Regions from separate parts of the Homo sapiens genome. Here region 2 is linked to region 1. The links come from fine-mapping of genetic effects on plasma protein levels. Region 1 holds a variant in brackets. A gene starts in the other region. All regions are shown on their forward strands.

What was found. PIP is the chance, under the fine-mapping model, that this variant and not a neighbour inherited with it causes the effect. Protein levels are from antibody-based Olink assays in UK Biobank. Linkage for the fine-mapping came from a reference panel and not from the study's own genotypes, which makes the PIPs less certain.
Region 2: it holds the start of PRSS27, and the variant in region 1 is fine-mapped to the plasma level of the PRSS27 protein (UK Biobank, PIP 0.92).

The regions. Positions count from the first base shown.
Region 1 is chr11:126,363,111-126,371,110 of GRCh38, forward strand. The region is part of intron 1 of ST3GAL4 (ST3 beta-galactoside alpha-2,3-sialyltransferase 4); the gene reads left to right. Among named protein-coding and RNA genes, the nearest start is that of ST3GAL4, 11 kb to the left of the region's middle. RefSeq lists an enhancer at 1,476-1,993. The variant G/A (reference allele first, on the strand shown) is at 4,276.
Region 2 is chr16:2,711,801-2,728,664 of GRCh38, forward strand. PRSS27 (serine protease 27) reads right to left here and starts at 8,424. Exons shown (of 6, transcript NM_031948.5): 1 at 8,315-8,424; 2 at 4,700-4,726; 3 at 3,918-4,080; 4 at 2,265-2,536; 5 at 1,729-1,898; 6 at 622-1,014. The coding sequence starts at 8,360. The coding sequence ends at 820. RefSeq lists silencers at 3,961-4,010, 4,091-4,140, 8,995-9,754, 9,885-9,954, 10,638-10,807 and 1 more and an enhancer at 8,694-9,261.

The sequences.
Region 1 (8,000 bases):
CTGGCCGAGGAGCGGGTGTTGATGGAGTATGGGAGATTGTCCTCACAGGCAGTGTGGGCCGTTTCTCTAGACCTCCTGCCCCCATCTCCTTCCTGTCCCTGTTTGAGCCGTGCTCTTCTTCTTCAATCCCTTTCTGTCTGCCTTCTCTTTCCACCCCTAGATTTCTCACCATCTTCAGTGATCCCTCCTCCTTCCTTTCTGCCTCCTCTGCATTCTCTCCTTGCCCTTGCTTCTCTGATCTGCCTTTTTTCTCCAGCCTCAGCATTCAGGTTGTCCTCATAGTGGAACTGGGACTCTGGGGGTGGCTGGGTTGGGTTGCCTGGAGGCCGGGAATGTTCAGGAGAGCCTTCATTGGGAGCCCATGGGAGCAGGAGTCAGCTCCTCCTGTTGGCAGCTCCAGCATTTTCGAACAAAAATGGCTCTTCCAGGAGTTGAGTTTGGCGAAGAGACAGTGCCTGCCCAAAGTATGCAATGCTTTTATCTTTAGCTCAGCTCCTGAGCCCTCATGCAACTCTTTGGACATCTTCCTGCAAAGGACGGTGGGATCTTGTCTTTCTGGGGCCTCAGGGTCTCCAAAGATGGGCTGACTAAGCTTCCCTAGCCTGGGACCTGAACCCTCCACCCTCCTCTCTCTTGAGCTCTTTCTCCCAGGGGAAGCTGCTCGAATGAGGGGAGTTGGCCAACACAGTTTTCTACTCTCAGACCCCATTGAGGTGAGCACACAACAGTGTTCTGTGTGAGGGTCTGGATACACTCCCCACCCTCCCAGGCCCGGCACCGTGTCGCCCTGCCCCAGCCCAGAGCTTGCCTCTGTTGGCTTTGTGACCCTCGCTTTGTACTGTGGCTTTGTTCTGCCTTAGGGACCAGCTGGTCCCCTGCTGTGGTTCCACACAGTGGAGACTGATCCCTGACCACTCATTCAGCTGCCTGGCGGCCCTGGGGCAAGTGTTTGTCCCCCATCTCCCAAAATGGCGGGGTGCAGGGGCTCCCTGCCCGGAGTCCCAACCCTGCCAAGGCAGAGGGAATGGGGAACAGCTGCGCTGGCCCATTCCGGCTCCATATGGATTTGGTTTGACAACAAAGCTCCCTCTGTGTGTTCCCAAGCCCCTTACATAACCAGGGGCTGTGGGCAGAGGAGGAAAGGAGGAGGAGGTGGAGATGGGGACCAGGAGACACCAGGATGGGATGGCTGGAAAGGACACAGGGACCGGGAGGAGAGGGCAGGAGACGAGGGCCAGAGAGGAGGAGAGGGTGGGAGCAGGAGGGGGAAGTGCTGGTCTTGACCTCCCAGTTCTGCCTCCTGCTTCCTGGGGAGGGGAGGGTGGAGTCCAGCCACCGACTTCTGCTTGTGGATGCTTTGTCTTCTTTTCTTTGGACCTTTCCCACCAGTCCTGGATAGGCTGAGGAGGGGCCGTGGGACCTGTCTGGGGTGAGGTGAGGTCAGGTGTTGGGCTGGATGTGGGAGGCTGTTCCTTGGCCGCAGCCTGTAACTGAATAAATGCCATTAAAAGGGGAATCCATTTCCTCCCTCACTCCTGGCTTCCATTGCCTTCCCCCAGGCCCCAGCCCTGGTTCCAGAATCCCTCTGACCACTCCTCTTGTGCTCAGGAGGGCAGAATAACTGCAGCCTTTCCCTGTGCCCTGCCAGGCTGGTCCCGGGCCCCCTCTCAGCCCACTCATCCAGGGATGCAGCTCTGGCCTTGGCCCACCCCCATCAGAGGGCCTGTGGCCCTGATCACCGCACTCCCCACTCTGTGACCAGACGTTCTCTCCTGAGCATCGCTGACCCTGCAGCTGTCCAAATAGAGCAAGAAGTGAATGTTCTCTTTGGGGCACAGCTGGACTGGCAGCCCTGCAGGGTCAGGTGAGCTGCCAGTCCTGGGTGTGTTCTCGGGGGTGGGGGTGGGAGGATCACGTCCTGGGCTGAGATCCCTTCAGCTCCTCCTGGGCAGGAGGAAACAGCCATGCAGGGGCGGCCAGGAGGACTGGGTGGCGGGTGGTTCTGGGCTCTCCCAGCTTCGGTTGGGGCTGGGACCCTGGGGGACATGCTCTCCTGGGTGTTCCCAGGCTCTGTGTCTGGCCTGTGCCTCAGTGTGTGGGTTTTCTGGCACCAGGCTTCCTTGGGAAGAGCCTCTGGTTGTGCACCAGCCCTGAGGGTGGGGCTCATCCCAGGCTGCAGGGGACTGAGGGCCGAGCTCTTCCACCTTGAGGACAAGGATGGTTCCTCAGGGCTGGGAGGAGGAGGAGGCGCTGGCCAGGACCTTAGATTACGCAGGGCATGGTGTTGGGGCCTCACAGATGATGGAGAAGCCAGAGTTCAGGCACTTGGCATGACCCCTGGCATCGCCTTCAGTTGATTTAGTGTCTCTGCCCTGGGATATTCCATGGGACCCTGGGCTGGCTTCTGTGTGCAGAGGTGGGTGTGGGCCATAGCCCAGACCTGTTGAACCAGTTGTAGGCTCTGGAATCCTCTGTCCCCAGGTAGTGACCAGGCCCTGACAGGCCGGTATCTGTCCCTCCCATCACCCTCCCAGTTATGGGTGCAGATGACCCTGAAATTGCTAAAGCCTCAGGGCTTGAGCCCAGAAAGTGTGAGCAGGCTGGTGGGGCAGCTGGAGGAAGGCCTTGCAGGTTCCTGGATTTGGGTGCCGGGTGGGCTGAGAGGACAGTCCCTGTCACTGGGACTGGGCACAGGTGCAGAGAGGCTGAGACGGGCCCAGAGGACAGTGAGTGTGTGTTGTGTGGGCGCCGGGCCAGGAAGTGCCCTCCATGGGGCAGCAGGCTCTGCAGTACCCTCGGCCAAATGGCCACAGGCTGCCCTGGGACACTCTCCAGGCCTGCTGGGGACACACCTGTGGGGCTCATAGGCGTGGCTGGGTCTCCTCTCAGGTGCCAGAATCTTTCTGGGAGCTGAGCCTGGCTGGGCAGAGGGCGAGGAGCCCAGGATTCCCCTTTCCGTGACTTTGGAGGAACGAGGTTCCTGAGGGCTGGCACAGCCACTCCCTGCCCCTTAGAGGCTCCGGGCTGCCTGGTGATAGCTCCCAGGGACCTGCAAGCTGACAAACAAAGTCTATACGAGCCAGAGCTGGGGTGGGAGGAACCCAGTGGGCCTGGGGGAGGTAAAGCAGCAGCAGCTGCTGTAGCTGAGCCCGGCCCACGGCCAGCCCTGAGGAATGGAGGAAGAGAGTGCCCTGGCTGGGGGAGCCCCTCAAGCCCTGGAAGCTGTATGTGGGCATGGGGTGGTGGGGGCGTGCAGAGAGGAGGAGGACTGAGAGCTGGGTGTGTGTGTGCGCATGCCTGTGTCTGTGTGATCTGGTTCCCGGGTGTCTGAGTAGGGACCAATGTGTTTGTGCTGGAGAAGCCTGTGTAGGTTACTGACATGGGGAGGGGTGGGGCTTGCTTTCCTCACCCCGCTTCCCACGTCTTCATTGAGTCCTCATCTGGGGGCCCTGTTCCACTCTCCTTCCCGTGTGCAGGGCCCTCCCCTCTGGCGAGTCTGCCTCTCACTCGCTCAGCCCCTTTAACCCTGCTGGCTCCTAATGAGACTTCAGGTGTGGACCCTCGAACCCTCAGCTGCACAGGTCTGGAAACATCCTTGTTCATCAAGCACCAGGCTGACCATGGTGTCCGTCTCAGTGCCCAGCAGATGTTCTGGTGAGGGGAGGCGGGAGTGCAAGGTCTGCCGAGTGAGGGTTCCTTCCGGGAGGAGGCAGGGTGAGCGCAGAAACCACTGCTCCAAAACTCTTAAAAGCAGAGCCGAGAGCCTGAATTCAGAGGCTGTACTGTGGGGCAGGGCTGGAATTTGTGGCACCTGCAGGGCTGAACGTTGCCTTTGCTGTCCCTGCTTGGGGATTTTGGGGTACTGGGTTTGGATAGAGTGTGTCATCTGCAGAGGGAGCACTGTTCTGGAAGTGGACTCTGCTCAGGTGTGGGGGGCCTGCCTGTAGGGGGCACCGTGGTGGAGATGGAGCACCGCTCATGACAGGAGGCTGGTGTCTGGTCAGGCTGAGGGATCCGTGTGCCAGCCCTTCTGGGAAGGCTGAATGGGGCGGAACTGGTCAGGGCCTGGCACCAACTCCAGGAGGTGCTACACCCAGACAGACAGATGGAAAGCCACCTCCCTAGAGGCCTCCTCCCCCTCCCCTTCTGCATGCCACCACACCCCAGCAGCGTCTCCTGAGGCTGGGCCATGGGTGAATCTGAGTCGAGGGCAGGGCAGAGTGGGAGTGGCAGTGCCTCTGCCTGTCTCCCTGGCCGTGGCAGGTCCTTTGTCAC[G/A]TATGGACCAGGAGAGGTGAGTATGATTGTGGTAGTGGTGGGGGCAGTGGCTGAGGACCCCTCTCTTTGCTGGGCTGGGGCAGAGCTTGAATGGAGAGGGGCTGCCTTGTGCCTGGGAAGGGAGGACCAGGTGTCGCTGGTACCTTCCAGGTCCTGAATGCTTGTTCTGTGCCTAGCCCCTGCTGAGGCTGCGGACGTTACAAACCAGGATGTGTTTTGAGGCTCAGGACACCTCTGAGGACTTGCTGCTGTTACCCCCATTTAAAAGACGAGGACTCTGAAGATCTGAGGTGCATAGAGTGTAGGGATTAAAAGTAGTTCTGGCTGAATTTTAAATCCTGGTTCCACCATTTTTGAGCTCTCTGATCTTGGGACCCTTAATGTATTTGCTCTGTGCCTCAGTTTCCCCATCTGTAAATGAGAATGAAAGAGTAATCCCACATCCATTGGTTGAAAACTTCAATAAGATTATGCATAGCAGGCCGGGTGTGGTGGCTCACACCAGTAATCCCAGCACTTTGGGAGGCCAAGGCAGGTGGATCACTTGAGGTCAGGATTTTGAGACCAGCCTGGTCAACATGGTGAAACCCCATCTCTACTAAAAGTACAACAATTAGCTGGACATAATGGCGCGCGCCTGTGATCCCAGCTACTTGGGAGGCTGAGCAGGAGAATCCTTTGAATTCAGGAGGTGGAGGTTGCAGTGAGCCAAGATCACGCCACTGAACTCCAGTCTGGACCACAGAGTGAGACTGTCTCACAAAAAAAAAAAAAAAGATTATGCACAGCACCTGCAGCACAGCCCCAGGGATGATTTTTAAAAGTGAATCCAGGGCCAGGTGTGGTGGCTCATGCCTGTAATCCCAGCACTTGGGGAGGCTGAGACAGGATTACCTGACATCAGGAGTCAGTGACCAGCCTGGCCAATATGGTGAAACCCCATCTCTACTAAAAAGAAATCCCAGATTCTGCCATGCCACAGTGTCCAAGTCAGTCACCTGCTCGCAGTCGGCCCTCAGGCCCTGTGGCTCCTGTTTCTGCTGACTTGTCCAGCCTCACAGTCTGGGGAGGCCTTGGGGTCCCCAGCCTGCGCTGGGACAGGGGTATTATTCCGTCAGCCCTTCTGTGGAACAAGTAGGGAAGGAGTGATGTGACCTCCGTGGCTCTCCTGGGACACAGGTTAGTCCTGTGGGTGACCTCACTTTAGAGAGGGCTGGCCAGCTGTGCCGGAATTAGGAAGTGGGTACAGCTGGACAAAAGGTGGCTGGAGCCAGCTCTACAGAAGCCACACCTGCTCATGAGAAGGGTATCCTTGTGAGTACAGGGGAAATGGCATGGAGAAAGACAAACACTGGTGGGTGGCTCTGCCAGCTTCCCCTGGGGTGCTTCTGGCGATGCCCAGGCCTTTGCACGCTCAGATCTTTGCACCCCACTGTTTTAACTTGGAGAGGAGAGGAGGAAGTTAGCTGCTCTGAATGGTGTTGCTGCTAATCTCTACAGCACTTTCCTGTAAATTAGGAACGGTAACACACACACCCCTCCCCCACCCCGTTGGAGAAGCCCTGCACCAGAGCATACAGTTTGGCAAGTAGGGGGAGGGCTGGAGCCCAGCCTCACTTGCCACCCTGGCCAGGCCGTGATTGCCCAGGGTGCATACTGTGGCTGGTGCTCTGCCACCTGCTGTTTCTGTCCTCAGGGTAGGACACAAGGAGGGCAAGTAGGGCTAGTCAGTGAGAGGCACAGGTGATGCGTGTTCTAGGGCTTGAGATCAGCTGCTTCCATTTCAGTAATTGTCTTTGGAGGTACGTTGTTTGCTCAAGCAACCTCCCTTCAAGATAGTGCCTTTTTCTTTCTCTCTCTCTCTTTTTTTTGGGGGGGGGAGGCAGAGTTTTACTCTTGTCGCCCAGGCTGGAGCACAGTGGTGTGATCTCGGCTCACTGCAACCTCGGCCTCCTGGATTCAAGCGATTCTCATGCCTCAGCCTCCCGAGTAGCTGGGATTACACGTGTGTGCCACCACGCCCTGCTAATTTTTGTATTTTTAGTAAAGATAGGGTTTCCCCATGTTGGCCAGGCTGGTCTCGATCTCCTGACCTCAGGTGATCCGCTCGCCTGGCCTCCCAAAGTGCTGGGACTATAGGCATGAGCCACCGTGCTGGCTGATAGTGCCATTTTTTAAAATCCCTATTTACCCAGTGGAAAACCTGAGACCCGGAAAGGTCATTCACACTCCCAGAAGTGATGGTTGGTCCAGAATTCAGGTCCAAGTGTGAGACTTCAACATTTACATTCCTTATTTTTTCTTCTTCCTTTTTTTTATTTTAATCAAATTATTACTTCAAAATGTATCACACTCATCAGTTTGAAACAGTTAAGCAGTACAAATGGGAATATGAGAGAAAGTCACTCTCCCACCCGCCCTCTTGAGAGGCAATAGCCTTGTTTTGCATCCTTCTGAGTACTCTATTCACATAAGATGTATCTGAATATGCATGTAATTCTTTTGTGAAAGTGCATTTGGAGATCACTGTTTTACACCTGCCTTTTACATCTTAATATTATGCTTTGGAGATCAGTTGACATCAGCATGCATCGATTTGCATCCTATTTTTCACAGCTGCATAGTGTTTCGTTGTGTGTGCCTAATTTTTTAAAACAGGTGCCTGTGCATAGATTTCATGTTTCCATCTTATGCTGTTAGAAAAAGTGCTGCAGTAAAGATCCTAACAGACAAGTCTCTTTGCAAATATAGGAAACTTTTCTGTGGAATAAGCTTCTGGCACGGAAGCCCCGGGGTAAAGGGTATTTTGATAAATATTGTGAAATGTCTTCCCAGAAGGTGGCCTGGTTTTCACTTCCAGCATACATCTGTGAGAGGTCCTGCTTCCCACACTCCCCCAGCACTGTGTAGCTCAGGACCCTTGTTTTTTGCTGTTACTATTTGTGAAAAATGGTATCTCAACCACACCGGAAGTTTTAAATGTAGATAAATGTCTTATGTGCCATTTATATTTCTCTACAGTAAAGTATATATTCATAGCCTTAGCTTATTTTTAAATTATGTTCCTTCATTGTTTGGGGAGTGGGGGGTAGACTTGCATGAGTATGTTATAGGCTAAGGGAATTAACTGATAAGTTAATATATGTACATCTTGCAAATGCACTTCTTAGTTTTTTACTCTTTTAAGTATGAGCTTGCTCACTTGCTCTCTGTATCTCACTTAAACTTTATGTGAGTGTATTAATCTTTCATTATTTAGCTTCTGAATTTATATTTCTTCAATCTCCATTCCTTTTTTTTTTTTTCCTTGAAATGGAGACTCGCTCTGTCACCCAGGCTGGAGTGCAGTGGCACGATCTCGGCTCACTGCAACCTCTGCATCCCGGGTTCAAGCAATTCTCCTGCCTCAGCCTCCCGATTTGCTGGGACTACAGACATGTGCCACCACGCTCGGCTAATTTTTGTATTTTTTAGTAGAGACCATTTTGGTCAGGCAGGTCTCGAGCTCCTGAACTCAATCAATCTACCTGCCTTGGCCTCCCAAAGTGCTGGGATTACTGGTGTGAACCACTGTGCCTGGCCCTCGTTCTTTTTTTTATATGAAAATATTTCAAATATGTAAAAATTAATATAACAGACCTCCATGTGATAATCAGCCAGATTTATCAAGTGTGAACCTTATCCCATATTAGATATTTTTTCCTTTAAGAAATAAAATATTACAA
Region 2 (16,864 bases), not on the chromosome of region 1:
GGGTGCGTGTGGGTGTGATGTGCATGTCCAGCCTAATCCCCTTGCCACCACGCACTGCTCTGGACTCCTGCATGGGGGTGGAGACTGAGGGATGGGGCGGAGGAAGAGGAGCCAAGGGTCAAGGGGAGACGCCGGGGCACAGGGAGACGAAGGGTGCCAGGAGCAGTGGAGCAGGAAAGCACAGGTGTGGGCACCCACTCCTGCCGAAGTGGTTTAGAAAAGTTGGGTGGCCCCGAGACACGGGCAGCCGGAAGTGCAGGCTTGGGAGGCTGAGGTGCCCCCGCCCAGCCAGTCCCTCCATGCCCTCCTCTCGCCCCGGCACAGCTCCTGCATGGCCCTGAGGCTCTTTCCACCTGTGTCCGTCGCTGTCCCCAGTGCCAACCCTGGGGCGGCCTTTAAGGTGAGAGAACAGAGGCACAGGTGGCAGCAGGTGGCCTCCTGTGCGGGGCCCGTGACAGGGGTCCCATACTCTGGTGCTGTCCTCGCCTCGGGCACCAGCTGCAGCTCCCTTCTGCTGATTCAGAGATGACCAGAGCACTCCGCATCTCCCACCTGGGCTTCATCCTGCAACTCACAGCTCCTCACCCGCCGGGGTCCCCCAAGGATCCCCACGTGGGCAGCTGGCACACAGGCTGGGTTTTTATTGGGAGAAACATAAATAAAATAAGGGTATTTGAGAGGGGAGGAAGGAGCGCTATTTACAAATGAGTCTGGTGGGGCTCACAGGTGCAACAGCAGCGCTGGGAGGACCAGCAGGATGGTGTGGGCGGGCAGGCTGGGTGCAGAGCTCTGCTCAAGGGGCTCCTGGCCCCGGGGGTCTCACTTCTGGCCGCCCAACCTCGCTGGCTGGAACTGCAGTTTGGGGATGATCCGATGGATCCAGTTGTGGTGGGCGGTGACACGGATGTAGACACCTGGGCGGTTCTGGCGGGCACAGCCCTCACCCCAGCTGATCACCCCCGCCTGCAGCCACGACTGACCCACGAGGCACACCAGGGGGCCGCCCGAGTCGCCCTGCGGGGGACGCAGAGTCACCGTCAGAGCCCACCTTGAGTTCCCAGAGACTCAGTTGCAGCCGCACAGGAGGTGTGTAGCTCCGCAATGGATTCCTTCTCTCCATCCCAGAGCCTCTCTGCCCGGCTCCCCATCCCCTGCCAGTCCGATTGTCTAAAGTGCCTATTCTTTAGTGTCCCCAGATCAACTAGGGTGTGTGTGTGTGTTGAAAATGCAGTTTCTTGTGCCCCACCCCAGACCCACTGACTCTGATCCTTCTGGGGTGGGGTCCAGGAATCTGCTTTTTCTTTTTTTTTTTTATTGAGACGGAGTCTTGCTCTGTGGCCCAGGCTGGAGTGCACTGGCGCGATCTCGGCTCACTGCAAGCTCCGCCTCCCAGGTTCGCGCCATTCTCCTGCCTCAGCCTCCCAAGTAGCTGGGACTACAGGCGCCCACCACCACGCCTGGCTAATTTTTTGTATTTTTAGTAGAGATGGGGTTTCACTGTGTTAGCCAGGATGGTCTCCATCTCCTGACCTTGTGATCCACCCTCCTTGGCCTCCCAAAGTGCTGGGATTACAGGCGTGAGCCACCACACCCGGCCCTGGAATCTGCCTTTTCAAAACAAGCTGCTCAGCTGGTTGAATGCATAGCCCATGGAGCGGGGCATGATCCCACCCTGCCCTGGGCCTGGCGGTGGGGACTGAGTCCCCATGGACACCACATTGCTCCCACCTTGCAGGCATCCTTCTTGCCCTCCTCGAAGCCGGCGCACAGCATGTCATTCTTGATGGTTTTGGGTTGGTAGCCAAACTCGGTGTCTTTGCTGTAGAGCAGGTTGCACTTGGGTGTGTCGATGATGGGCACAGCGAGTTTCTGCAGGATCCGCGGTTCGGGCAGGAGGTCTGGAGAGGGGCGGAACAGCCCAGGGCTCAACGGACTTCCTCATCAAGAACCCACGGCCCCGGGAACCACCACTCCATCCTGCCTGTCGTTTCCTCATGTTTAGACCATCTCTGGCTTAGGGCACTGTGGGGCAGACATCCTCCCTCCTTCCAGGCAGCAGGCTGGGCCCTTTCTGTCCCCCTCTCCCTTCACCCCCTCTTCCTTCTGGGTCTGCTGCTGCTCCCCTCGGCCCCACCTGTGTGAACAGAGACCGTGTGTATGTATTAATATAGCAACAGGAAGATTGTGGGTTCAGAGTGGTCCCCAAGCCGTCCTGGGCCTTCTTGAGGCATATCCCCCATTCTTTCCCAGCCCTGTCCCCTTACCTTCCTCACTGGGGCTGCCCCAGCCAGTGACCCAGCAGTTCATGCCCGTCTCAAAGATCACCGAGGGGTCAGGCAGGCACACGGGGAGGATGTAATTGGTGAAGGGCACTGGTGCCTCCAGCTCCACCAGGGCCACGTCAGCGCTGGAGGCCGTGCCCTGGTACAGGGGGTTGCTCTCCACCTGCCTCACCCGGGCATACATAGCGTGTGGTCCCGGCTGCACTAGCTGCCTTGCCCCCAGCAGGACCTGGTACAGGGACGTCTCAGAGGTGCTGGCGGGAGAAACAGAGAGGCGGCGTGAGGCGGCCCCTCGTGTGGGGACAGGCCCGGGAGGGGCTGGGGCTCCTCTGGCCACCACCGTGCCCCACACCTCTCTCTGCACAATGTCTTCGAGAGTCATCTCTAGGACAGCCAGGTGCAGCGGTGATGCGTGTTGACATTGAAGCCAGACCGCCCGACTCAGATTTCCACCTCCACCCCTGGCCGCTGTGTGGCCTTGGGCAAGTCACTTAACAAGTTCTCTGTGATGCAGCTTTCTCACCTGTGCTGTGGGGACAGTCACAGTGCCTACCTGAAAGGCTGGCTCGGAGAGAACCACCCTCCAGGTGCAGCAGGGCCAGCCCCACCTGCGGGCCTCTGGCAGGTGACCTGCCCTCTCTCAGCCCGAGTTTCCGATTTTTTTTTTCCCCTAGAGACAGAGTTCTCATTCTGTCACCCAGGCTGGAGTGCAGCAGTGCAACTGTAGCTCACTGCAGCCTCCAACTCCTGGGCTCAAGCCATCCTCTCGCCTCAGCTTCCTGAGTACTTGGGACCACAGGCACCACTGCACCTGGGGTTTTTTTGTTTGTTTGTTTTTTGTTTTTTAATTTTTTTTTATTTTTAGTAGAGACAGGGTCTTGCTGTGTTGCCCGGGCTGGTCTTGAACTCCTGGGCTCAACTGATCTGCCCGCCTTGGCCTCCCAAAGTGCTGGGATTACGGGTGTGAGCCACCGTGCCTGGCCGTGAGTATCTGAATTTAAGATGTGGGGTTTTTTTTGTCATGATATTCTTTTAAAGATCAAGAAGAAAAAAAAGAAAAAGATGTGGGGTTTAAAATAATTAGAGCTGCGGTGTTGAGGTGTGAGGTGAGGGGGCCTGGGACACCCGGAAGGTGTGGGACCAGGTGGTTCATACATGGCAGAGGGCTGGGTGGCCTGGCCTCTGCTCAGGGCTTTCTGGGGTGGTTCAGGTGGGTGAGGGGAGGAAGGGCCGTTCTGTCTGGTCCTTGGGCTTTGTGAGCAGAGTTCCTCCCGGGAAGAGTGTCCTGGAGCTGAGGTGTGTGCGGGATGGGGAAAGGCCAGGAGGGGCCGGTGGGCAGAGCCTGCCGGGCCGCTTCTGCAGGGACCCACAGGGAGTGGGTGAGTGGGTGGAGGGGATGGAGGGGGTCGGGGGGCGGTGCGAGGCACCTCCCGCGGGCGGGAGCAGCGGTTGCAACTGGAAGTTAGCCCTGGAGTTGGACCTAAGGGAAGCATCTGGGTGGGAGGGGCTGGACCAGGAGCCCCCAGGGAGGTCACCCGCAGGATTTGGCGCGGCGGGCGCTGTCCACGGTGCTGAACCGGTCGCGCGCGGGGCGCTGTCAGCGCTATGGGCGGGGGCAGGGGCGGGCGGACTCACTTGCGGAAGCAGTGCGCAGCCGTCAGGACCCACTGCTCCGCGATGAGGCTGCCCCCGCAGAAGTGGCTTCCGTTGCGCTGGATGCTGACTTGCCAGGGCCACTCGCCCTCCTGCGTGTCCTGCCCGCCCACCATTCGGTTCAGCATCCTGGGGCGACCACAGGCTGGGGGAGCATGGGGAGCGGGTGGGGGCGCTCACTGGGGCTGGTTCCATGGCCGAGGCCCAGCTCTCAGCCTCACACTCCAGTCCTCGGCCCTCCTGCCCCTGACCTGCCCGAAGACCTTGGGGAAGTCGGAGGCCTGGGCTTCGGGGCAGTCTGGGATACAGGCAGACCCTCCCCAGCTGCCCCCCAAAGTCTCACTCTCCTCGCCGAGAAAGGCAACCTAACACCTGCCTCTTGGGGGCCACGGAGGCACTGAGATAACCCAGGGAAGGGTCTTGTCCCAGGGCCTGACCCAAACAGGTGCCTGGAAGGATAGAACAGGTGTCAAGCCCTCTGCAAGGGAGCCACCCAGAGGGGGCCAGTCACGGTTCAGGGTGATCCTCAGACCCTGCCGCCCTCATCCTGCACCGCGCCTCAAGGCTCTGTGCTGCCCGTCCTGCTCTTGTGTGGACCTTCCTCCTCCTCTCCTTTCTGGGCTCCAGTTCCACACAGCCCCCACTTTCCCCTCCTCTGGAATTCCCCAGTGTCCTGTGCGTTCCAAATTCCCTCTGGCCATGAGTGTCCCTGGCTCAGTCCAGCCGGCTCCTGTCCCTCCCACCCCAGGGCCCTGGGTGCTTACCTGTTGCTGCCTTGGCCCTCTGAGACCCTGGAAGTGAGGAGAGGGTGATCAGCCAGGCCAGCTGCAGCCTGGCCTGCCCTCCCCAACCCTGCAGCCCCTCTCCACTGACCCTCCCCAGCTCCTGAGGACTCCAGAGGGACAGTCCACAGAGGGACCTCACCGGAGAGCCCAAGGGCCTGCAGTTTCCCCCCCAGGGCTGGCTCTGCCGTATGCTCAGGCCCAGGCCCATGGGCCACAGCTTATCTGCAAGGGTGGATGCTCCTTGCCACATGGGGAGCCGGTCAGGAGATGCCAGTGAAGGGATCCCCAGGCTAGATGTCCCCTTCTCATCCTGGAAAGGGTCCTCTCCCTCCACACTCCACACCCATCCTTGTCTGGAAGTTTCTGGGGAGGGTCCAGCCTCCAGCCCTGGCACTGTAAGGTTGGCCTTTCCTCCCGGAACAGCTCAGAGCGGAAGAGGCCCGGGAGCTGTCTCTACATTTGAGCTGCCCAGGGCTCTCTCACAGTCTGCTCCGGAATGAGCTCCTTCCCCAAGTCTCACTTTGGTCCCGAGGCTGAGGCCCGAGCCCCACAGGCTTCTCCCTGGCCTCAGGGGAGTAGAGAAGGTACAGTGGTCTGCATTGGCCACCAGGGATCAGCCTTCTCAAGATTCCAGAGTCCCAAGAGCTGACCCCTCTCCCAGGCATGCAGCAGGCTTGGCAGACGAGGCCCAGGACCCCCTGCTGGGCTGTGCAAGGGGGCTTTGGAGCGGATAAAGTGAGGGGCCCGGAAGAGAAGCAAGATATGGGGTCGTTCGGGGGAACCAAGGATGGGAACATATTTTCTGCTGTCCATTGCCTCCCACACCCCAGGACACAAAGGGCCTCTTGCTGGGCCTTTAACCAAACACTGGAGCCTCTACCCCAGCTTGGAGACCCCAGCCAGGACCATAGTGTACAGCCCCAGGGTAGCAAAGCCTGGAACTTCCTGGCCTTGAGAGAGTCCTCTCACCACCCCTGCACTCCACGCGTCTGATTCTGTGGGGGCAAGATTCGCCCGTAGCTGGGGAGGGGTTAGAACAGCCACCTCCCCACACCTAGGCCCTCAGCTTCCCCTTAACCCCCAGTGCCTTCCGGTGCCCGGGCCAGCTGCTATGGACCATGTCTTCACTCTGCCCGGAAAAGATAACCAGTCCCCTGGAGTTGAGGGGCTGTGGGGACAGGAAGTGGCCATGGAGGGCCCAAGCACCCCCAGGGTTTTTACGGCATCCTCTTCCTTTCTGTCTGCCTCACAGTCTGGGGGGCACCCTCCCCAACACCACTGGTGGGCAGAGACACCCCGGGGGTTGCTGGACGATAAGGCAGCGGGCGGCGAGGGGGCAGCTGTGGATGGGCAGGAGGAGGAGGTGGAGAAGGTGCAGGGCAGGCAAAGGGGTGCCCTGCAGAAGCGGGGTCAGGGGCAACGGGAAATGGAGAGTCTGCCCTGGATGCTCTGCTCATTAATTTGTGCTAATTAAGTGCCCTTTAAAATGCAAACACTACCGGGAGGGTTATTCCCTGGCCCCCCGACCCCTTGCTCCTTCCAAGCCTGAGGATCCTGCTTGCAGAAGGGCGCGCACTGTCAGGCCTTCTCGCTCTCTGGGAGTCTGCAGGAGCTGTGTCTCCATGCTCCCTGCCTGAGCACTGCCCCTTCAGCGATGCCTCCTCCCCATGCAGATCCTTCCTTCCTAAAGTAGCCCTGTACTTCTCATTTAGGCAGAGTCTTCTGGTCTCTGAGTGCTTGCTCCCCTCACCCCACAATCTGGATGCCCTTCCCCCAGTCTCCATAAGTCCTAGTCTTTTTTTTTTTTTTTTTTTTAAGATGGAGTCTCACTCTGTTGCCCAGCCTGGAGTGCAGTGGCGCGATCTCAGCTCACTGCAAGCTCCGCCTCCTGGGTTCACGCCATTCTCCTGCCTCAGCCTCCCGAGTAGCTGGGACTACAGGGGCCCGCCACCAAGCCCGGCTAATTTTTTTGTATTTTTAGTAGAGAGGGGTTTCACCATGTTTGCCAGGATAGTCTCGATCTCCTGGCCCCGTGATCCGCCCACCTCGGCCTCCCAAAGTGCTGGCATTACAGGCGTGAGCCACCGCTCCCAGCCAAGTCCTAATCGTGATCTAGAGATCAAGGCCCAACTGAATGCTGCCTCCTCCAGGAAGCCTTCCTTGCTTGCTTGCATTGTCTACCTTGGAAGCCCTATACTCTCTCTTGAGCTCTCTGTCCTGATGGGAGCTCTGTCTACATCACCCTGGAGCCAGAATCAAGTCTTATCTTAGCCCAGGAGCTCCGAGAAGGCAAGGGCTGCATCTGGGGGGCCTGATCTCAGGGAATGTGTGGATGGACACAAGTGTGGCTGTGGGGGCTGATGGGAAATGGGGGATGTGGACAGCTGAGCCCTTCAGGGTGGGCGCCCTGTGGGGGCTGGAAGCAACAGCCAGGGGTGCCGGGGGTGTCAGGAGCATTGTTTGGGGCCTGGGCCTGTGATTCGCTGGTAGCTGGTGGGGATGGTGAAGCTTAGTGGGTACCACCAGCCAGAGACCTGGTGGGAGTGCCACCCTCGGGCTGGGAGTGAGGACGTGTCCAGGAGTCCAGCCTCTGGTCACAGCTGTTAGTGAACCGACTGCAAAACTCATTGCCAAAGAGTTTTGGCAATGACCTTGGTTCCTCACCCCGCTCAGGGGCAGTCACAGCCTTCCACCTCCTGTGCACATGGCTTGCTCAGAGGGCACCATCCTTGTGCTGGGAGACTGGGGGCATGGGGTGGGGGAGGCCGGGCCACTGAGGGGCCACTGGTGCCCTCCCACCCAGGAGAACAAGGAAGCCTGGAGTACTGGCTAAGCTGCAGCCTGGGATGACCTGACCCAGCCCTGGGAGGTGACTTGAGGACAGGGAAGTGTGGTGGCTGCCAGACTGGCTAGGCTAGCCCAGGAATGTGAGAGGTTTTCCCTGACAGAGAGTGTCCCGGCCCGCAGGGAGGGGCCTGGCAGGTGGGGCCCCCTGGCTGGCACCTGCTGTCCCTGACCCAGGACTGGGAGAGGGCACGGTGGCGCATCACCGGTTCCTCTGTCAGCAGGAGACAGGGCCCTCTGCCACCTACACCCCCTGCCCCCAGCTCTCTACTGAGCCTGCAGCCAGCCTGCTGGGGCTTCCGGGCACAGGCAGCAGCCCTCGGCTCGGCCACCCTCCCACCCCGAGTATGATGGTCCAGGCACTTGGAGCCTGAGTTCACATCCTGCACGTAGGAGGCCCCTGTCCTCACCTAGAGAATGGGGGGAGAGGCCGAGGTGGCAGGAAGCAGGGAGCCTGGCCAGAGCTGGCACACCAGTGCCCGCGGAGAGGCATGGGAGGAGGTGCTGCCCAGTTATGCCGGTGGGGTCCTCTGGGGCCTGTGCGCACACCTCCCACCCTGCCTCCCCACTTTGGACTCCCCACTTGGCACATCTGGAGCCTTCCCACCTGCTCAGGGGCAGGAGGGATGATGGCCTGTCCCACAGCCCCAGCCTGTCCCAGGGAGTAGGGGGCTGAGCCGGAGCCCCAGGCAGTGCAGCGGAGCCTGGTGGGGGACTGCACCACCAGGACCCTGCACCTTCACGACTCACCAAAACACAGCAGCAGCAGGAGCGGCACCGCCGCCGGCCGCCTCATGTCCTCAGGCCTGGCTGGGGCGCAGGGCCGTGGTCGGCGGTGGCAGAAGCGTTGGAGCACGAGCGAGGTGCAGGCTCCATGAAGTGGAGTTTTATGCTGGAGATGAGCACAGGCCCGGCTATGCGGCCCAACCCGTCGGCCCGGCCTGCCCAGCTCCTCTCCTCAGGAAGGAAGCGCCCAGAGCCGACTCCTCCGTGACCTAGCCCTGAACCCCGAGACCCCAGGGCAGACCCCTCACCCCAGCGCAGCACGGGGTGCCGTTGGCCTCGGTTCCTGGACCCTGAGCTGACCCAGACCCCCCAGCAGACCCCGAGCTGACCGCGGTGCACGCGAAGTCCGTCCAGCTTCATTCATTATTATTATTATTATTTTTTTTAATTTTTTGAGACAGAGTCTCGCTCTGTCGCCCAGGCTGGAGCGCAATCTCGGCTCACTGCAAGCTCCGTCTCCCAGGTTCAAGCCATTCTCCTGCCTCAGCCTCCTGAGTAGCTGGGATTACAGGCAGGTGCCACCACGCCCGGCTAATTTTTTGTATTTTTAGTAGAGACGGGGTTTAACCGTGTTGGCCAGGCTAGTCTCGATCTCCTGACCTCGTGATCCGCCCTCCTCGGCCTCCCAAAGCGCTGGGATTACAGGGGTGAGCCACCGCGCCCGGCCTCATTCAGTATTTTATTGAGCGCCGATGGAACACAGTGGGGCTGGGCCGCGCTGGTGGGAAAGTCAAGGCCAGGGGTGTTTGCGGGGCCGAGGGCAGGGGAGGCGATGGGACATGGGGCGGGGTCCGGAGTTGGCCGCAGCGACCCTCCTCCCGGGACAGCAGGCCCCAGAAGTTCCTCAGGCGCGCGCCAGCGCGGCCCAGGCGGCCGACCCGGGCCCCGGCTGCCATCCCTTGGAAGGGGCGGGGGCTTCCTGGCACCAGGCGGGGCGGAAGCGGCTCCGGGAAGGCCGGGCCGGGGTTACCGTTTCGGTGTCCCCGCCTGGCTCTGGGCGCGGCGCCGCGGCGGAAGAGGCTCGGGGAGGAAGTTATTTGGGGCACGGCGCTGACGTCAGAGACAGAGTGGGGCCGGGCCGTGGGGTCGGGGGCGCCGGACCTGTTTCCCCGCCGGCGCCGGGGGTCGGTACTCGCGGGCGGGGCGGGGCCGGGCGGCTCCGGGCGGGGCTGGGGGTGCGGCCGTTCCCGCCTCAGCCTTGTCCGCGCGCGTCGTGGTGCTGCCCTCTGGTGGGCGCGGGGCGCGGCGCGGGCGGCCAGGGGTGCAGAAGGGGCGCTCCCAGCCTCATGGTCCGGGCTCCGGCTCCCCGCATCGCCCTCCCTAGCCCCGCCCTCCCGCGTCTCCGCCTCCGCCTCCACCGCCTCCTCCCACCCTTCCCTCCCCGTCCAGTCCCTGGAGTTCCCGGGTCGGGGGTGGGAGGCGGGCTGGGCAGCCCCTGGGGGTCTGGAGGGAAGGAGGGAGGGCGAGGAGTGGGAAGAGGGGACTCCAAACGTATTCATTCATGTATTGATTTATTCATTCAGTCAGTCAGTCATTTCTGAGCAGATTTGAGCCCAATACTGTCCCCGGTTTGGGGAATACAAAGGTGACCCAAACAGACCTCACCTCAGTGTGAGAGAGAGAACATCATTTAGCAGAGAAATCTCTAATTATAAACCGCGACGGGCTGGGTGCAGTGGCTCACACCGGGAATCCCAGCACTTTGGGAGGCCAAGGCAGGCAGATCACCTGAGGTCAGGAGTTCGAGACCAGCATGGCCAACATGGTGAAACCCCGTCTCTACTAAAATACAAAATTAGCCGGGCTTGGTGGCGGGCACCTGTGATCCTAGCTACTCAGGAGGCTGAGGCAGGAGAATCACTTGAACTCGGGAGGCGGAGATGGCAATGACACGAGATTGCAACACTGCACTCCAGCCTGGGAGACAGTGAGACCCTGTCTCAAAAAAAAAAAAAAAAAAAGGAGAATAATAATTATCAACCACGGAAAGTGTTTCAAAGTGTCTGGGTGACCACATTTCTCCAGCACCCTATGGTCAGGTCACTGATGGGATCTCAGAGGCAGTCTTAGAGCCTCGCAGGTAACTATTTCCTCTTGGCACCTTTCTGTGTGTTCCTTGGTGTCTGCTCCCCAACCCTCCTTTTAAGCCCATTCCTCTAAGGGTGTCTCTGCCTTAAAATCAAGAAAGTGACAAAAGTCAAGATGCAGATCAGGGCCAGGTGCAGTGGCTCACGCCTGTAATCCCAGCACTTTGGGAGGCCGAGGCAGGCGGATCACGAGGTCAGGAGATCAAGACCGTCCTGGCTAACACGGTAAAATCCTGTCTCTACTAAAAATACAAAAAATTAGCTGGGCGCGGTGGTGGGCGCCTGTAGACCCAGCTACTCTGGAGGCTGAGGCAGGAGAATGGCCTGAACCCGGGAGGCGGAGCTTGCGGTGAGCCAAGATCTCGCCACTGCACTCCAGCCTGGGTGACAGAGCGAGACTCTGTCTCAAAAAAAAAAAAAAAAAAAAAAAAGATGCAGATCAGAAAGCGAGGACGCCAGGGAAACTTGGGCTCCTGAAGAACAAGGCACAGCCACGCCAGCGATTAGAGGATCGGGAACCCAGACCTCGCCTCCATGTCCCTGTACCTGGAGCCCACGGACCCAGGGCTGAGAATGGGCCCCTTCCTCATACCACCCACCAAACAAATGAAGAGGGCATTACAATCCAGAAAGATTTTTATGTTTTGTTTTGTTTTGTTTTGTTTTGTTTTGTTTTTTGAGACACAGTCTCGCTCTGTTTCCCAGGCTGGAGTGCAGTGGCACGATCTCGGCTCGCTGCAACCTCTGCCTTCCAGGTTCAAGCGATTCTCCTGCCTCAGCCCCGCTAGTAGCTGGGATTACAGGCCTGTGCCACCATGCCCAGCTAATTTTTGTATTTTTAGTAGAGATGGAGTTTCGCCATGTTGGCCAGGCTAGTCTCGAACTCCTGACCTCAGGTGATCCACCCGCCTCGGCCTCCCAAAGTGCTGGGATTACAGGCATGAGCCACCATGCCCGGCCATGTTTTTAAAATAATCAGTCCCTCCCTTCAAAAATAGAATTGGGGCGGGGTGCCATGGCTCATGCCTGTGAGTCAGAGGTTGTAGTGAGCCGAGATCGCGCCACTGCACTTCAGCCTGGTGGCAGAGCGAGACTCTGTCTCAAAAAAAAAAATTGAATTGGACATTTATCAACTCTCTGGAAGGGGGACAGTTTTCTAAGGTTAGAAGTCATGGCTGGGCATGGTGAAAGGAAGAGGGAAGGGTGCTGGTCAGTAAGCAGCAATAGCCACACACTCTCAGTCAGGTGTGAAAGTGAAATACAGACATTTTTGGCCAGGTGTGGTGGCTCACACCTCTAATCCCAGCACTTTGGGAGGCCGAGGCAGGCAATCACTCGAGTCCAGGAGTTCAAGACCAGCCTGGCCATTGTGGTGAAACCCCGTCTCTACTAAAAATACAAAAATTAGCCAGGCATGGTGGCACACATCTGTAATCCCAGCTACTGGGGAGGCTGACGCAGGAGAATCACTTGAACCTGGGAGGCAGAGATTGCAGTGAGTTGAGGTTGCATCATTGCACTACAGCTTGGGCGACACAGCAAGACTCTTTTTTTTTCTTTGAGACAGAGTTTCACTCTATCGCCTCCCAGGCTGGACTGCAGTGGTGTGATCTCCGCTCACTGCAACCTTCGCCTCCTGTGTTCAAGCGATTCTCCTGTCTCAGCCTTCTGAGTAGCTGGGATTACAGGCAGGCACAGCCATGCCCAGGTAACTTCTTTTTCTTTTTCTTTCTTTTTTTATTTTTTATTTTTTGTATTTCAGTAGAGATGGGGTTTCGCCATGTTGGCCAGGCTGGTCTCAAACTCCTGACCTCCTGATCTCTCCACCTCGGCCTCCCAAAGTGCTGGGATTATAGGCGTGAGCCACCGTGGCAGCCCTGACTCTAAAAAATAAAAAATAATAAATAAATAAATAAATAAAACCAGACATTTTCATGCTTGAAAGTTCTCAGAACATTTGGCCAGGCATGGTGGCTCATGACTGTAATTGAAACACTTTGGGAGACTGAGACAGAAGGAATCCTTGAGTTCAGGAGTTGGAGACCAGCCTGGGCAACACAGTGAGACCCCATCTCTACAAAAGAGAAAAAAATGTACTCCCTATGCGTGATTGTTGGAAAACCACCAGAGGAAAGATGCTCTTCAGCTAAAAGAGTAAAAAATCAAGAAAGCACAAGCTGTGGTCTGTGAAATGCAGACGTGGAACATGGCGGAGTACTGAAGGAAAGCTTGAGGCTGATGGTGAGGGACATTCTGGAAGGATAACTGTGCGCCAAGTCTAGAGGGCAGTCAGTGCTCATTGTGACACTGTGACTCAAGAGATAGGAAAGCTGGGACTGTCGTGATTGTGCTGTCATTGCACTAGCTCTTTAACCTGGCCAGATTACTGGAAGATGTGTTTCACCTAAACAAGGTGTAAACTGAGGAGGAGGAAGACAAGAGATCCAGGATGTGGGGAATCCAAATCAGGAGAAACCCAAGAGGGATTACAAGGATGACAGCTGGGGGATGTCCCAGTGATGGCAGCAGTGGCCCGTCTGGAGTGGTCGCTGTGAAGACACCAGCTGCAGTGGGGGAAGCATGGCCGGGTCTGTGCCCTTCATGGACCTGGAGGGGCTGGGAACAGACGGGAGCCCTGCCCCTTCTGAGTTGGCAGGGTGGGGAGCCCTGCCTTCCCAGGCACATCAGCAGCCACCCAGCTGTAGCTGCAGACCGGGGCATCCCTGTGCTCTCGGGGGGCCTGGAAGGCCCCCGGCCCCCACAGGCTCAAAGCGCCTGCTCCTGCTGCCTGGCTTCTCCCTGTTTCCAGCGCCCACTCCAATTTCAGAGCAAAGTTGAGGTCGAGACCAGGTGCTGTTGGAACCTGGCTGGGTGTGCCCGTGTTGGGGCAGTGCTGACGTGCCAGTCCCCTGCCACACTGGCCATCTCCGGACTTTGGGCGCTGATGAGCATGGGAGGGAGGCTGAGGGGGTGCTGAGGGCAGTCTCGAACTCCTGACCTCAGGTGATCTGCCTGCCTCGGCCTCCTAGCCCTGTCTGTGTTCCTTTATTTATGTTCTAGGAAAGAACGTATTTCCTGATCATTCGGGTTGTTGGCAGAATTCAGCTCCTTGTGTTTTAGGGCTGAGGTCCTGGCTTTCTCATTGGCTGTCAGCTGAGGGCTGTTCCCAGCTTGTATGTGCCACTGTATTCCTTGGCTGTGGCCCCTTCCTCCATCTGCAGAGCCAGCAATGGTGGGCTGGATTCTCACTTTGCATCTCTCTGACTCTTCATCTATCATCACATTTCTCCTTAATCACAGCTGGGAAAGGTTTTCTGCTAAAAGCCAACTCCTATGATTCGATCAGGCCCACTGGGATGGGCTGGGATAATTTCTCCACCTCAACGTTATTAACTTAATCACACCTGTAAAATCTCTTTTTGCCATGTAAGGTCATGTACTCACTGATCTGGGGATTAGGACATAGACATCTAGTGGGGCTGTTACTCCACCTGCCACGCTGGGCTTCTTCCATGCCAACTCCAATGACAATTTTATTATGATATTATTGGAGTATTGGCATACATATTTAGAATACTCAAGATATTCTCTGTGCCAATATTCTGTCACTTCTTAGTGTATTCTTTTTTCTTTTCTTTTTTTTTGAGATGGAGTCTCACTCTGTCTCCCAGGCTGGAGTGCAGTGGTTCGATCTCGGCTCACTGCAACCTCTGCCTCTGGGGTTCAAACGATTCTCCAGCCTCGGCCTCCCAAGTACCTGGGATTACAGGCATCTGCCGCCAAGCCAGACTGATTTTTTAATATTTTTAGTAGAGATGGGGTTTCTCCATGTTGGTCAGGCTGGTCTAGAACTCCCGACCTCAGGTGATCCGCCCACCTCGGCCTCCCAAAGTGTTGGGATTACAGGTGTGAGCCACTGCTCCTGGCCTGTTTCCACCTTTTGGCTATTGTGAATAATGATGCTTGAACTTGGGTGTACAAGTATCTCTTTGAGACACTGCTTTCAGTTCTTTTGTGAATATACCCACAAGTGGAATTGCTGGAGCAAATGGTAATTCTACATTTAATTTTTTGAGGAATAGGCAAAATGTTTCCCAAATTTTTAAGAGAAAATTAATGACTAAATATTGAAGATAATCCAACTTCTAAAAATACCCTTAATTATTATTATTATTATTATTATTGTTTTTGGAGACACAGTCTTGCTCTCTCACTCAGGCTGGAGTGCAGTGGTGTGATCTCGGCTCACTCCAGTCTCTGCCTCCCAGGGTCAAACAATTCTCCTGCCTCAGCCTCCTGAGTACCTGGGATTACAGGCGCCCACCACCACACCTGGCTAGTTTTTGTATTTTTAGTAGAGACAAGGTGTCACCATATTTCCCAGGCTGGTCTCAAACTCCTGACCTCATGTGCTCCGCCTGCACTGGCCTCCCAAAGTGCTGAGATTACAGGCATGAGCCACCGCACCTGGCCGGTGGTCCTTAGTTAATAATATTAAAGTCCATTCTGAAGAAAATGCCATTTTGATTGTTATGCAAGCAATCAAGTAAGTCTTACTGATTTCATGCCATTGATATTTAATCTAGCGTCTGAAGGAGAAAAAGTGCTCCTACAAATAAAACAAATTGGCTGGGTGTGGTGGCTCACACCTGTAATCCCAGTACTTTGGGAAGCTGAGGTGGGAGAATCACTTGATCTCAGGAGTTTGAGACCAGCCTGGGCAACATAGCAAGACCCCATCTCTATAAACAATAAATTTAAAAAAGTTAGCCGATTGTGTGGCATGCACCTGTTGTCCCAGCTAGCTGCCGACCAGGGCATCCCTGTGCAGCCTCCCAGTGTTAGGAGGCTGACATGGAAGGATGGCTTGAGCTCACGAGTTACAAACCAGCTTGAGTAATATAGGGTGACTCCATCTGTAAACAAACAAACAAACCTCCTACTAACTGAACAGACAAAACTGTCTCACCCACTCTGTGTTGCTCTACATCTGCTTCAGGATGAAATCCATATTCAAAACAAGCAGAACAAGGCCGGGCGTGATGGCTCACCCCTGTAATCCCAGCATTTTGGGAGGTTGAGGTGGGCGGATCACCTGAGGCCAGGAGTTTAAGACCAGCCTGGCCAACATGGTGAAACCCCACCTCTACCAAAAATATAAAAATCAGCCGGGCATGGTGGCACGTGCCTATAGTCCCAGTTACTGAGGCAGGAGAATCGCTTGAACCCCGGAGGCGGAGGTTGCAGTGAGCTGAGATCTTGCCATTGCACTCCAGCCTAGGTGGCAAGAGCAAAAACTCTGTCTCAAAAGAAAAAAAAAAAAAAAGCCAGCACGGTGGCTCACCCCTGTAATCCCAGCACTTTGGGAGGCCGAGGTCAGCTGATCACCTGAGGTCAGGAGTTTGAGACCAGCCTGGCCAACATGGCAAAACCCAGTCTCTACTAAAAACACATAAAAAATTAGCTGGGCATAGTGGCAGGTGCCTGTAATCCCAGCTACTCGGGAGCCTGAGGCACGATAATTGCTTGAACCTGGGAGGCAGAGGTTGCTGTGAGCCAATATTGTGCCATTGCACTGCAGCCTGGGCAAGAGGAGCGAAATTCCATCTCAACAAATAAACAAACAAAAAAACAAAACAAGCAGAACAAACGATAACCCAAATGACAAGGGAAAATGAGTTCAGGTCGGGCGCAGTGGCTGACGCCTGTAATCACAACACTTTGGGAGGCTGAGCCGTGGGGATCACCTGAGGTCAGGAGTTTGAGACCAGCCTGGGCAACATAGTGAAACCCTGTCTCTACTAAAAATACAAAAATTAGCTGGACGTGGTAGCGGGCACTTGTAATCTCAGCTACTCGGGAGGCTGAGGTGGGAGAATCACTTCAATCTGGGAGGCAGAGCTTGCAGTGAGCTGAAATTGCGCCACTGCACTCTAGCCTGGGCGACAGAGCGAAACTATGTCTCAAAAAAAAAAAAAAAAAAAGTTCAAACATCACAGAGATATTGATAGGAAAAATTTCACCCAAGACATTCAATGAGTCAGCTGACCTCACCACATCTGTAATTGTCATATTCCCCCAAAACGTGTCAAGGGAAGTCAGGACTTCAACACCCACTTCAGGAACCATTTTTATTTTATTTCATTTTATTTTAATTTATTTTTTGAGACAGGGCCTCACTCTGCTGCTCAGGCTGGAGTGTAGTGGTGTGATCTCGGCTCACTGCAGCCCCAACCTCCTCAAACTCAGGGGATCCTCCCACCCCAGCCTCCCCCGTAGCTTGGACTACAGGCACTCACCACCATGCCCAGCTAATTTTTGTATTTTTTGTAGAGATGGGGTTTCACTATGTTTTCCAGGCTGGTCTCGAACTCCTGAGCTCAAGTGATACACCCATCTCGGCCTCCCAAAATGCTGGGATTACAGG